Regions from separate parts of the Homo sapiens genome. Here region 2 is linked to region 1. The links come from fine-mapping of genetic effects on gene expression. Tissue or cell type: whole blood. Region 1 holds a variant in brackets; the other region holds the start of a gene. All regions are shown on one strand. Distances are from middle to middle.

Region 1 (2,613 bases):
AATTGTGCTTAACATTTGTTTAACAAAAACTGATCCACAGAGAATCGGTGATCAGAAAGGCTGGATCTCTGCCCTGAAAAAGCCATTCTAAAAGCTAGTCTAGACCAAGTTTCATTTTATTTTCTTAAAGCACTGTGTTTCTATTGTCACCTTAGAATGACACAGAATTGGCTGGGCATGCTGGCTTCCTTAGAATGATATAGAATTGGCTGGGGGCAGTGGCTCACACCCGTAATCCCAGCACTTTGGGTGGCCGAGGCAGGCGGATCATGAAGTCAAGAGATCGACCATCCTGGCCAACACTGTGCAACCCCGTCTCTACTAAAAATACAAAAATTAGCTGGGCATGGTGGCATGTGCCTGTAGTCCCAGCTACTCAGGAGGCTGAGGCAGGAGAATTGCTTAAACCCAGGAGGCGGAGGTTGCAGTGAGCTGAGATCACGCCACTACACTCCAGCCTGGCAACAGAGCGAGACTCCATCTACCAAAAAAAAAAAAAAAAAAAAAAGAATGATATAGAAGAATTAAATGAGGATTAACTGGAGATTGACAATTTCAAAACCACCTTTGCAAAATTATAACAGTGACAAAATGATGACAGTGAAAGAGATCTGACCTAACCAACTCCATCTTGTTTTTAACCTCCAATCTGCCCTTGGTCATTCCTGGGCATGGGCCAAGATATTAATAAATTTGGGAGAAATTTAGTTTATGATTTAAATGATAATAGCTCATCCCAAAACTAAACTGCCTTTGTAAAACTAATGAAAGGACACCAGGTCAGGAGGATGCGAAGGACCAGAATTCTGCTAAGATGCAGGTCAGTTAAATGATTAGCAGTTATTATTCCAGAGGGCACAAAAATTTGCAACATCCTCAATTACTCCTGTAAATAACATCACTATTGTAGTACACAGGACTGGCCTTTTGAGATGTCTTTTCAGGCTTTTGCACTTCTGACTACCCAATGGCCCCTCTCAGACCAGCCACTCCTCTGTGGCCCCAACCCAGAAGCAGACTCAGCACGCAAGGACCAGGACTGTTTTTCTATATCCCTGTGATTCCATCCCCAACCAATCAGCAGTACCCATTCCCTAGCCCCTGCCTACCAAACTATCCTTGAAAAACCCTAGCCTCCAACTTTTCAAGAAGGCTGATTTGAGTAATAATAAAACTCCTGTCTCCCATTTAG[C/T]TGTCTCCATGTATATGAAATTATTTCTCTCTTGCAATTCCCATCTTGATAAATTGGCTCTATCTGGGTAGCAGGCAAGAAGAACCTGTTGGGTGGTTCTTACCTGTAATTCTTCCTGTCCAGCAAAAACCATTTATTCTTCTTGTCCAGTTTTAGGAAAGCATGCCTGTTGAGATTGGATCACCTTTCTTCTTGGAGACAGTCAAGGCAGTGCCTATTATGTTGGCCTCCCAGGCAAGAGGGTTTGCCAACTGGGGTGATTTCCATGAGCAGAGCTTTAGAATGATTCATTCCAACCTGACTTAGAACAATTTGCTTTATTTCTTCTTTTTTAAATTAATAATAGAGGCAGGGTCTTGCTATGTTGCCCAGGTTGGTCTTGAAGTCCTGGACTCAAGCAGTCCTCCCACCTTGGCCTCCCAAAGTGCTAGGATTACAGGCATGAGCCACCACACCCAGCCAGAATAATTTACTTTAAAGAGTTCTTCTTCCTTTTCTACATCTTAGCCCCATTAAATTACCTCGGTAAACCTTACGTCAAAACTTGGGGTTATGGTTTTCATCTTTCATTTCCAGGAACTAAGATGCCATCCCTCCCATCAGAAGGAACAGAGTTAAAGGAGTATAAACCAAAAATAAAATTCTAAGGCCCCCCAACCATCTGAATGGACTTCCTCCTCAGTCAGCGCCCTTAAAATTTAACCTGAGAGACTGTTTCAGGGCATGATGGGAAGTGGGGGTCAAACATGCCTCGTTATACCTCTCTGGCATTAACATCAACACAGACTTTAAGTCTAATAAGAAACATTTTGCAACCTATTCTCTCTGAAGCCTGCTAGCTAAAAGCTTCATCTGCATGATAAAACCTTGGTCGCTACAGCCTCTTATCTTAACCCAGACATTCCTTTCTGTTTGATCCCAGGTCTTTAGACAAACTCAGCCAAGTGTCAACCAGAAAACATTTGAATTTACCTGTAGCCTGGAAGCCCCACTTCAAATTGTCCCACCTTTCTGGATCAAACCAATGTATTTCTCAAATGTATTTGATTGATGTCTCATGCCTCCCTAAAATGTATGAAACCAAGCTGCACCCAAACCACCTTTGGTACATGTTCTCAGGATCTCTTGAAGGCTGTGTCACAGGCCATGGCCACTCATATTTGGCTCAGAATAAATCTCTTCAAATATTTTACAGAGTTCAACTCTTCGTCAACAGAAGAAACATTAGGAGATGGGGATGGGGCTGGAGTTGGGGGTGACTGACATTGTGTTCTAGTGGCTAGTTAACCAGCTAATCAGCCAAGGAGAGAAGTGGTGACTCAAGATAATAGGTGTTTTCTCTGAAGCAGTGGGACCATGGAGAGGAAGAAGAAAGAAGGGAAAGGACTTTTTTACAAATCCATAGCTGCAGACAGGAGACC
Region 2 (2,700 bases), 290 kb after region 1:
CCCTGCTCACAGGCAAGGTGTAGGGGGGTATTTCCTCGAAAGTCTCGGAGCTCAGGATCACAGCCAGCTCCCAGAAGTGCCTCAGCAATTTCTGGCTGGTTGGTGATCACAGCCAAGTGGAGTGGAGTCTACGAATGCAAGAGAGACCAGAGAAAGTAAGCCATGGACCAAACCCACACCCCGAGTTCCCCTCAACCCGTGTCTCCTGGTTGGGTGCTGCTCCTCCTAGACAGGGGGGTGGGGAGGGCTGGCAAATAGCAGAGGCTCCAGGTGGGTCATAAAGACCTCACCAAATCAGTGGAATTTCCTTCACTCTCTAGGATGTGGGCTGATGTGAAGTAAAAGGTGAGGGTAAATAGTGCTCAGTGGCCCTGAATTCAGAAAGGATCTGGGGTGACTCTGCTACATCAGCTACGTCCCAGGGTCAGAGAGAACCCGGGCCAGGCAAGCGGCGCACCTGCTGCAGGTTGTTCTGGAAGTTGAGGAAGGCCAGGTCTCCCTTCACCTGGCGGATCACTTCCATGGTCAGTGCCTTTTCTTCATGGATGATGGCCAAGTGCAGGAACCTGTGGGGAAGAGAGGGAAAAACCCCAGGGGTGGTGAGTGCACCGCGTGGGGCCCAGGGAGGCGCGGGCTGCGGGGGATTGCGCAAGGCCGGGGTTTCTGGAGGCCGAGGCCGCGGTGTTTTCCGCGAGGTTATTATGAGCTGAGTGTTCCTGGCAGGCGCCCAGGGACTTTCCGCCCCCCTCCCCCCGCGGCCCCGGCGGGCGCCGGCCAGACCGCCCCGCCCTCCCGCCAGCTCGGAACGCCCTGTACTTCCCCTCCCGGCTGCTCGGCGCCCGCCAGCGGCCAGAAACTCCCGCCCCGCCTTATGCAACCGGGGACTTCGCGTCCCCGCTGCCGCCCCGCCCCCGGCCTAGAGGACGGGTCTGGGGGGAGGGGGCGTGTGGCGACGCTGCCATCCACCAGGGCCCAGCCGCCGCCCCTCCGAGTTGGGCCGGTGCCCCGCGCGGCCCTGCAGCCCTGCAGCGTTCGGGGCGGTGCAGGAGCCCCGGGGTGCCGCGGCGCCCGCCCGGCTGCATCGCTGGTCCCCCGGCTCGGGCTCCAGGCCCGGCGCCTCCCACCCCCAGGCCGCGCGCGTCCCGCCCTCCCGACGACCCCCAGCCCCGGGCCTCCGCCACTTACGAGTCCCCGTCCTCGGTGAGCTGCTGCTTCCAGGGCTCCGAGCCGCGCGGCACCTCCTGCGGCTCGAGGCGGATCTCCTGCAGCTCCTTGACCATCTGCTCGTACTCCTCGTCTTTCATGGAGTCCAGGCCGCTGTCGTGGCGGTCGTCCAGTAGCCGCTCCTTCTTCAGCCCGTCGCGGGGGCCCTCCATGGCCCACTCCTGGGGGCGCTCGGCCGCCTGGAACATGGCGCGGACGAGCTGCGGGCGCTGCTGCGGGTGCGCTGGGCCGCGGGCTGCGCGCTGCTTCCTCGCTGGGGCGCTGGCGGGCGGGACGGCGGCACGGACTGCTGTGGGCTCTGCAGCGCCGCCGCGGCGCCCTATAAACGCTGGCTGGGGATTTCTCTGGGGCGGGGTCAGGCTCGGGGAATTTCCAAGCCAGTCAGACCAGAAAAAGAGAACTGGCTTCGTCCTCTGCTAGGGGGAAAAAGAAGCCTAAACCCTGAGCTGGGGTTCATCGGAGAAACTCCCTGCGATGAGCCACTAGGGTCACGGACAGGGAACTTTTTGATGAGCGCCGAGTGGCTGGAAAGTCCTTCCGACCAGGCCCCCTCCCCCCGGTACTTCCCTGCAGCCTGCACCCTGTAATCCTGTCCCTCTGCAAGTGAGCCTTCTTTCCCTGGGGTTTCCCACGATCGATTTGAATTGGGGTCGTCGGCTGCTGAGATCCCAAGGACGCCGACCTGATGGGCGGTCCCTCTTTGGGGTTTGCCAACCTGCCGGTCCTTTCCGTTTTTTGATCTTTTGAAAACGCAAGAGTGGAAATGATGGCTGGGCGTAGGGATTTGCTTTCCCCAGACTTCTAAGGGGAAGGACGCACTGTGGTTAGGGGGCTGCAGGCCGCGCCGGTGTTTCTGCCTATACCAGGCTCTTTGCAGCAAAGGAACTTTTAGCTTCGCCCCCACCCCCCCACGCACCCCCGCCAGGTAGAAGTTGTGAAAGCTTTGGAGGAGTGAAAAGCCTAAATCCTTGGAGAACTCTCAAATCACTTCCTAGGGATGAACAGCCCTGTTGACTGGGGGAGGGGCAAACGCTCCCTGTATGGGGAAACTGCTGAATAGGACCATGATTTTTTTTGTTTCCCAAGTAAAGCAAGGTGTTAATGTTTGTAGTGGTGGTTGTGGATACCTTGCAATAGCAGAGTAGCTATTGTGTTCATAAGTAGCTATTCGTTTATGCTATCTGACCTACATTGTGCTCCCGCAGAAAAAGGATCGTGAGCCTACTTCTGGGCACCCAAATTCGAGGAGAACTTAGAGAAGGAGGCTGAAGAATGAGTTTAGTTAGTGCCTTAACCGCGATTGGACCTTAAGGACCACTAAGAAAGTAGTTGCCAGGCATCCTGCGGGAGGCTCAAGGTAGTCCCATCCTGCCCGCCCCTCCTTGCTCTCTTGTCCTGGGGGACAGTAGCAGTTGGACCCATTCACGCCACCTGGGTAGAAAGGGGTTTCGGCTCACTATGCTCTGGTTTCACCTG

What was found. PIP is the estimated chance that this variant, and not a neighbour inherited with it, causes the effect.
Region 2: NFKBIA starts here. The variant in region 1 is fine-mapped to the expression of NFKBIA in whole blood (INTERVAL, PIP above 0.99).

The regions. Positions count from the first base shown.
Region 1 is chr14:35,110,750-35,113,362 of GRCh38, forward strand. The region is part of intron 2 of PPP2R3C (protein phosphatase 2 regulatory subunit B''gamma); the gene reads right to left. It overlaps LOC101927178 (a long non-coding RNA gene), which reads left to right. Exons shown (of 5, transcript NR_110415.1): 5 at 2,115-2,381. Among named protein-coding and RNA genes, the nearest start is that of PRORP-PSMA6, 9.8 kb to the right of the region's middle. RefSeq lists an enhancer at 1,800-2,581. The variant C/T (reference allele first, on the strand shown) is at 1,193.
Region 2 is chr14:35,403,233-35,405,932 of GRCh38, forward strand. NFKBIA (NFKB inhibitor alpha) reads right to left here and starts at 1,517. Exons shown (of 6, transcript NM_020529.3): 1 at 1,186-1,517; 2 at 458-566; 3 at 1-128. The coding sequence starts at 1,412. RefSeq lists enhancers at 9-318, 349-398, 1,503-2,374, 1,579-1,978 and silencers at 599-1,188, 1,339-1,508.